Homo sapiens: one gene and its partner. The protein of the gene in region 1 purifies or fractionates together with the protein of each later gene. This does not show direct contact. Each region holds a gene or a part of one and is shown on either strand. Other genes may lie near its edges. The genes, in order: TTC39B and PREPL.

Region 1 (3,826 bases):
TCACGCCTGTAATCCCAGCACTTTGGGAGGCCAAGGCAGGTGGATCACCTGAGGTCAGGAGTTCGAAAGCAGCCTGGCCAACATGGCGAAACCCCGTCTCTACTAAAAATACAAAAATTAGCTGGGCGTGGTAGCAGGCACCTGTAATCCCAGCTACTCGGAACGCTGAGGCAGGAGAATCGGTTGAACCCAGGCTGTGGGGGCAGAGGTTGCAGTGAGCCGAGATCCCACTACTTCACTCCAGCCTGGGTGAAAGAGTAAAACTCCGTCTCAAAAAAAAAAAAAAAAAAAAAAAAAAACCTTCCAGGTTCCCATTTTTTAGGAGATACAACCCAAATTCCTTAGCGTGACATTCAGGACACAATGACTCACGACCCAAGTCAGCCTTTTTGGTTTCTGCCCTTGACACTCTCCTTCCCACTGTACCAAGTGCTCTCTTATTCCCGCCCATCTCAACTTCCCCCAAGGCCTTCCCACTGGGGAGCCCAACACAATCCCACTTGCCCTTTGAAACCTAGTTCAAATACCATCTCTCCTTTCAAGTCTTTGCCGGACCCTAAACAAGGGAAGCCAATCATCCCTGTTTGTACCTGTTGTCTTAGTGCAATTACTGAAAGCGCTCATTTACTCAGAGTGCCCTGCTTTGAATGATAAATTATATGACCTTCCTACCTAAAACCTACCCTAACCCAAAGATAGAAATAGTACAGTGACTTGTGTTAAGTGTTTTGCTTGACGTTGTGCTCCTCAAGGGTAATAACTGTCTTGTTTTAGTGTGTACATCCAGCATTTAAAGACTGTTAGGACCTGCCAGGCGTTCAATGAACGTTGGTGGAATGAAAGAATAAATCTCAGCTGGGAGCAGTGGCTCACGCCTATAATCCCAGCACTTTGGAAAGCCCAGGTGGGCGAATCACCTTTAGTCAGGAGTTTGAGACCAGCCTGACCAACATGGAGAAACCCCGTCTCTATTAAAAATACAAAAAATTGGATGGTCGTGGTGGTGCATGCCTGTAACCCCAGCTACTCGGGAGACTGAGGCAGGAGAATCACTTGAACCCGGGAGGCAGAGGTTGCCGTGAGCTGAGATCGTGCCACTGCACTCCAGCCTGGGCAACAGAGAGAGAGTCCATCTCAAAAAAAAAAAAAGAAGAAGAAAAGAAAGAAAATTGTGGTAATGAATTTTATCAAAACTTCATCTAAACTTCCAAAGAGAAATTAGCCAAATCAGAATTAGATCTAAAAATTCCTGGGCCAAAAAGCAGGCGGTAAAAACATGTCACATAAGCCATTTATTTCCTAGTCAGTGTCTTAATTTTTTTCATTATCAACCCTCAAAGGAGCCTAAGTATAAAGCTTACTTTTTTAATTCAATAACAGGATCAGAATGACTCAATAAATATTTTAAAAGTTAAGTGTAAGGTTGGGCACGGTGGCTCACGCCTGTAATCCCAGCACATTGGGAGGCCAAGGCGGGTGGATCACTTGGGGTCAGGAGTTTGAGACCAGCCTGGCCAACATGGTGAAACCCCATCTCTACTGAAAAAAATACAAAAATTAGCTGGATGTGGTGGTGGGCGCCTGCAATTCCAGCTTCTCCGGAGGCTGAGGCAGGAGAATCACTTGAGCCCGGGAGGCAGACGTTACAGTGAGCCAAGATCATGCCACTGCACTCCAGCTTGGGTGACCAAGCAAGACTCTGTCTTTAAAAAAAAGGCCGGGCGCGGTGGCTCACGCCTGTAATCCCAGCACTTTGGGAGGTCGAGGTGGGTGGATCACAAGGTCAGGAGTTCGAGACCAGCCTGGCCAATATGGTGAAACCTCGTCTCTACTAAAAATACAAAAAAATTAGCCGGGTGTGGTGGCACATGCATCACGCCACTGCACTCCAATCTGGGTGACAAAGCGAGATTCCGTCTCAAAAAAAAAAAAAAAAAAAAAAAAGCCGGTGCAGTGGCTCACACCTGTAATCCCAGCACTTTGAGAGGCCGAGGTAGGTGGATCACCTGAGGTCAGGAGTTCGAGACCGGCCTGGCCAACGTGCTGAAACTCTGTTTCTACTAAAAATACAAAAATTAGCTGGGCATGGTGTTGGGCGCCTGTAATCCAAGCTACTCGGGAGGCTGAGGCAGGAGAATCGCTTGAACCCGGGAGGCGGAGGTTGCAGTGAGCCGAGATCATGCCATTGCACTCCAGCCTGGATGACAAGAGCAAAACTCCATCCCCCACCAAAAAAAGAAAAAAATGTTTAAAAAGCTATGAACATTTGGCCGGGCGCAGTGGCTCATGCCTGTAATCCCAGCACTTTGGGAGGCTGAGGCGGCCGGATCACGAGGTCAAGAGATCGAGACCATCCTGGCCAACATGGTGAAACCCCGTCTCTACTAAAAATACAAAAATTAGCTGGACGTGGTGGCACGCACATGTAGTCCCAGCTACTTGGGAGGCTGAAGCAGCAGAATCGCTTGAACCCAGGAGGCAGAGGTTGCAGTGAGCCGAGATTGTGCCACTGCACTCCAGCCTGGGCAACAGAGGGAGACTCCAACTCAAAAAAAAAATCTATGAACATTTAACTTTATAACTGTATTTGCTGAGTGACTTTTAATATAATGTTAAATATAATGCATCAAATTATATATACAAATTATCAATTTCTATACCTACATAATAGCAATGTAATCAACTTTTCAAAAAACATTCAAAACTGTTATTTTCCAGCAAAAGTAAAACTATTGAAAAAATCATTTTCTGAAAAGTGATTTTTTTTTTTTTTTTGAAACGGGGTCTGTCACCCAGGCTGGAGTGCAGTGGCATGATCAGAGTTCACTGCAGCCTCAACCTCCTAGGCTCAAGTGATCCTCCCACCTCAGCCTCCAGAATAACTTAGGACTACAGGCGGGCACCACCATGCCCAGCTAACTATTCATATTTTTATTTTTGTAGAGACAGGGTCTCACTGCGTTACGCAGGTTGAAAAGTGATTTTTAGTGAACTTTTGTTTCATATGAGAAAAATTTTTTTTTTTTTTCTGAGATGGAGTTTTACTCTTGTTGCCCCCGCTGGAGTACAATGGTGCGATCTCAGCTCATGCAACCTCTGCCTCCCAGGTTCAAGCGATTCTCCTGCCTCAGCCTCCCAAGTAGCTGAGATTACAGGTGCCCGCCACCACGCCCAGCTAATTTTTTTGTTATTTTTAGTAGAGACTGGGTGTCACCATGTTGGTCAGGCTGGTCTCGAACTCCTGACCTCAGGTGATCCACCCGCCTCAGCCTCCCAAAGTGATGGGATTACAGGCATGAGCCACCACACCTGGCCTCATATGAGAAAATTTTTAACTTAATTAGCTGCTAGATATTAATTCAAATACTGTCAATGTTTTCCTTTTTGGCACTTGAGATAATTATTGGTGAGCTGAATAATCTTAATTGAATTAAATAATAAAATATAAATGATTTTCATTCAATTCTCAAATCCTTATATTTGAGGGCCAAATATAAGCAAGCCACAAGGCACCCAATGGTAGCCCATAAGTATGTGAAGGTAACCAACTAAAATGACTTCAAGATCAGGCAACTAGAGAGAAAGTCTTCCAACCACAGCCATCTCTACGTTATAAATTTGTTGGATTGACCTTGAATATATTCTGTACATCTTCCATGAATCCATTATCAATGTTGCTAGTGTAATACACAAGAAAACCCAATGAGAGAAATTCAAATATTAAGAAACAAGCTTTTGTTGATTGAGCTTTAAATGGCCACACACCATTATAATATCTAAGATGCTTGTGCTCCCCAATAACCAATTTTTGCCTCCAATGAGGATG
Region 2 (3,826 bases), on another chromosome or scaffold:
TGTGTTCATTCATATACTTCAACAGGTCTGTTTTTTATAAGAGTCTTCATTTCATCTTCATCTTGAATAGTCAGACTATGAAAAGGTTAATTAAATTATTATTAAGTAAACTGCATGTTTCTTTTGTCAGGTTAAACATGGTGGTTTTGTTTATTACCAAGAAGGTTGTTGCTTGGTTCGTTCCAAAGATGAAGAAGGTACACCACAATTTTTCTTTTTACGTGCTCTAATTTTCAGATTTCATATTTTTTATAGGAAATTTATTAATTTCTCAAAGATAGAGAAAAGATTTTTTTAAAGATTATTTCTGAATTTTTTTTTAATGACTAGTTTTTAATATCTGGGTTTGTGTAAGATATAGTTAGACTCAGAAGCTTTGGCAGGGAGAATGGAGACGGCATCCAGCATTTTTTGAGCATCTGCTGTGTCTTGGGTACTATGCTAGGCACTTGGCATATATTGTTGATTGTCATTTATATTCACTTACTTTCTAGGTTCTGTATGGTCTGTAAATACTAAACTAGACTATAACAATATCAAATAATGTCTCATAGGTTGATGCACAGAATAGTATTGAATAGTATAAGGTAATATTAAATAACTTATTGTCAGTTGATGTGCAAGTTAAGCTGCCATCATTGTTGAAAGAAGCTAGGATATGGCCTCTTACAGAATGGGAATTCTAATTTAAAACATTAAAATACAGTTTTAATTTTTTAAAGTACATCCTTTGAAGTTATCACTTTCGTATTTTTCTTTATACAGCAGACAATGATAATTATGAAGTTTTATTCAATTTGGAGGAACTTAAGTTAGACCAGCCCTTCATTGATTGTATCAGAGTTGCTCCAGATGAAAAATATGTGGCTGCCAAGATAAGAACTGAAGATTCTGAAGCATCTACCTGTGTAATTATAAAGCTCAGCGATCAGCCCGTAATGGAAGCTTCTTTCCCGAATGTGTCCAGTTTTGGTAAGCCACCAACCAAAATAGTCCTCTGTGTTGAAAGGCAACGGTAACACTTTTGAAACATTTTTTTGTCGCATGTGAGGGAGGGAGAAGGTGAATGCCTGATTCATGTATCCCTATGGACTATACATCTTCCTATGTACCTCTTATTCAGGAGACCTTCCCTTATTTAATTATATATCTAGATGGGTAATTTTAAAATACTCATGTTTTTAAAAGTGTTATAATTAGAGTCCATGTCATACAATATGTTTTGATTTATCAGAATTATTTGCCAAATTATTATCTAGAATAAATTTTTACACGTAAGTTGCATCTTAATATTTTATTCAACTTTAAGCTTGAATGTATTTTTTTAATTTCATGTTATCTTATAGAGCTGTTACAGCATAAAGTCACTACCAAAGAACTTGGTATGTGTTGAACTAACCTGTTTATCAATGGAAGCTGTGACATTTTTAGTAATAGAACTAACTTTAAATTTATCATTGAGTGGTACATATGTTACATTTTGTCCTCCCTTTTCATTTTCAGCCATCATTTTCTCCATTGTTTAACTAAATGTTGTTGCAGTGAATTGAAATTATACCCTAACTATTGAATTCTAAGACATATATTTTGTACATTTTATAACCTTTAAAATCATGGTGCATATTATACAATGATGACTTACAATCACTGTCAGCCAGGTGGCAGTCATGGTGTAATTGTGTGCAAACTTCTGTTGACAGCTTCTGGTGGGATCAAGAATCAGCATTAAATTGTGTTTGGTAGTTGGAGATATCCTGTGGCTTGAAAGCAGACAGAGAAGGTTTACACATGAGAGAAAGATGCAATATTCCTTCAGACTTACAGTTTCAAGTTGTAGATTGAGACGGAATTCACCTCCTAAAAGCAAATGTGACTTTACCAATGTCTTTCCTAAATATTGAGCATTTAGCTCTTATTTAGAAACCTGAGTACCCTGAGACTGATAACTACTTGAAACCTTGGAATGGTGTAGTAGTGGTTTATTCTCAGGAAAGCTCTCTGGCTTATATACAGCACAGATTAGATACAGTCAAATATTTAGATTTCCAGGGATAAACTTGCACATGTTCTCACTGGCATTCAAAATTAGAATGTGCTGTGCTTTTTTTTTTTTTTTAATGGAGTGTAGGTGATTATGTATAATTATCTCATTATTTTCTTTCAGAATGGGTAAAGGACGAGGAAGATGAAGATGTTTTATTCTACACCTTCCAGAGGAACCTTCGCTGTCATGACGTATATCGAGCCACTTTTGGTGATAACAAACGTAATGAACGCTTTTACACAGAAAAAGACCCAAGGTACTAGAATAATATAATTAAATCTTTCTCTCCAGAACCTTCCTCCAGTTATTTAAAGTACTGACTTTGGTTGACTTAAAACGTTTATTTTGGTTGGAACCAGGAATAATAAGGCTAAAACGATCATTCTTTTATTAGTTGTTTGTATTCAAAATTGGAGTCTGGTAATATTCAAAATCAGAGTAAATACAGATATATCACTAATATTTTATTAAAAACTGAAATTGATTTTGTGAATTACAACATAGTTCATTCATGTAAATTCATAAAGATGACCTAGAACTGCTAGATTGTGAACAGACTGAGTCTGTTTCACCTTTGCATCTTAATTGATAAGCAGGGTGCCAGGTTTGTATAGTGCTATTTAGTCAGTATCTATTGCTTAAATAAATGGTATATACTTAGATAGGTATCTCTCTTTCAAACTAAAACCCCTTGTTCCTGATGATTGTTGAGTACCTTTTAACCATTAAATTCTTAGTAATATATAGAAGAATTTAAAGTATGTGTTGCTACTAAATTATAAATTAAAACTAACTCAAAAATGTATTATTGTGCTAGGTGAAAAAATTAAATATATGCTATGGTTTCAATTGGGTATCAAGGAAAAAAGATGCATTTTTAAAAGATTGAAAGGAAATACACCCAAAGTACTAACAATGGTTTTTTTTTTACTTTTCTTTTTTTCTTTTTGTAATAAGCATTATTATTTTTATAATACATTTTAAATTTAAAAATAATTGTCGATAGAAATAATTGGAAAAAAAGATTAATGTCTAGTTCTTTATATTTCGTATATTCTCTTAGACACATTTTACCCTAGAGCCACTTGTGTTCTCACTTCCTGTAACCACATATCTAACAACTATTTGGTCAAGTAGTTTATTTTTAATTTGTCATCACCAAACTAAGCAAACAAAAATATATAAAAACAGCGAAGAAAGTGTTGAAAATAAAGAGCAAAGTAGGGTAGGGGACTTGCCCTACAATTATATATTAAAGCATATAAAGCAATAACAGTAAAAATAATACAAATTGATAGACAAATAATAGAGCTTAGAATAACTCTAAAACATAGATCCTAGTCTATGTGAAAATTTATATGATAAAAGGCATCACAAACTAATGAAAAATGAATCGGTGTTATTTTATAATGCAATGGGAAATACTATTTGGGAAAAAATAATTTTCATCATTGTATATGTCAGCATACATTCCTAAGAGATTTAAAGAACCCATTGAGAAAAATAATTTTTTAATAAGATGAAAATATAAGCTTTTTAGTCAGCTTGGTTGGAATATTTTTGAAACATAAAATCAATATAAGAAATTACAAAGGGTAGTAGCAGTCTCGATTACGTAAAATATTAAACTCAAGTCAAAAACCACAAAAACTATTGTAAATAGTTAAAATCTAGGTAACAAAATGGAGGAAAGTGTTTTCAACAAAAAGACAAGTTAATGTTCTTAATTTTTTTTTTTTTTTTTTGAAACAGAGTCTCACTCTGTCACCCAGACTGGAGTGC

What was found.
Region 2: the proteins of TTC39B (region 1) and PREPL purify together in Homo sapiens (affinity purification with mass spectrometry, with the first as the bait; one large-scale study listed by BioGRID). This does not show direct contact.

What each region holds. Positions count from the first base shown.
Region 1 is NC_000009.12:15,300,620-15,304,445, forward strand, and holds part of TTC39B (tetratricopeptide repeat protein 39B), read right to left. Parts: intron 1-3,826. UniProt on the Homo sapiens protein: Regulates high density lipoprotein (HDL) cholesterol metabolism by promoting the ubiquitination and degradation of the oxysterols receptors LXR (NR1H2 and NR1H3).
Region 2 is NC_000002.12:44,340,891-44,344,716, reverse strand, and holds part of PREPL (prolyl endopeptidase-like), read left to right. Parts: intron 1-130; coding exon 131-197; intron 198-765; coding exon 766-972; intron 973-2,164; coding exon 2,165-2,300; intron 2,301-3,826. UniProt on the Homo sapiens protein: Serine peptidase whose precise substrate specificity remains unclear. Does not cleave peptides after a arginine or lysine residue. Regulates trans-Golgi network morphology and sorting by regulating the membrane binding of the AP-1 complex.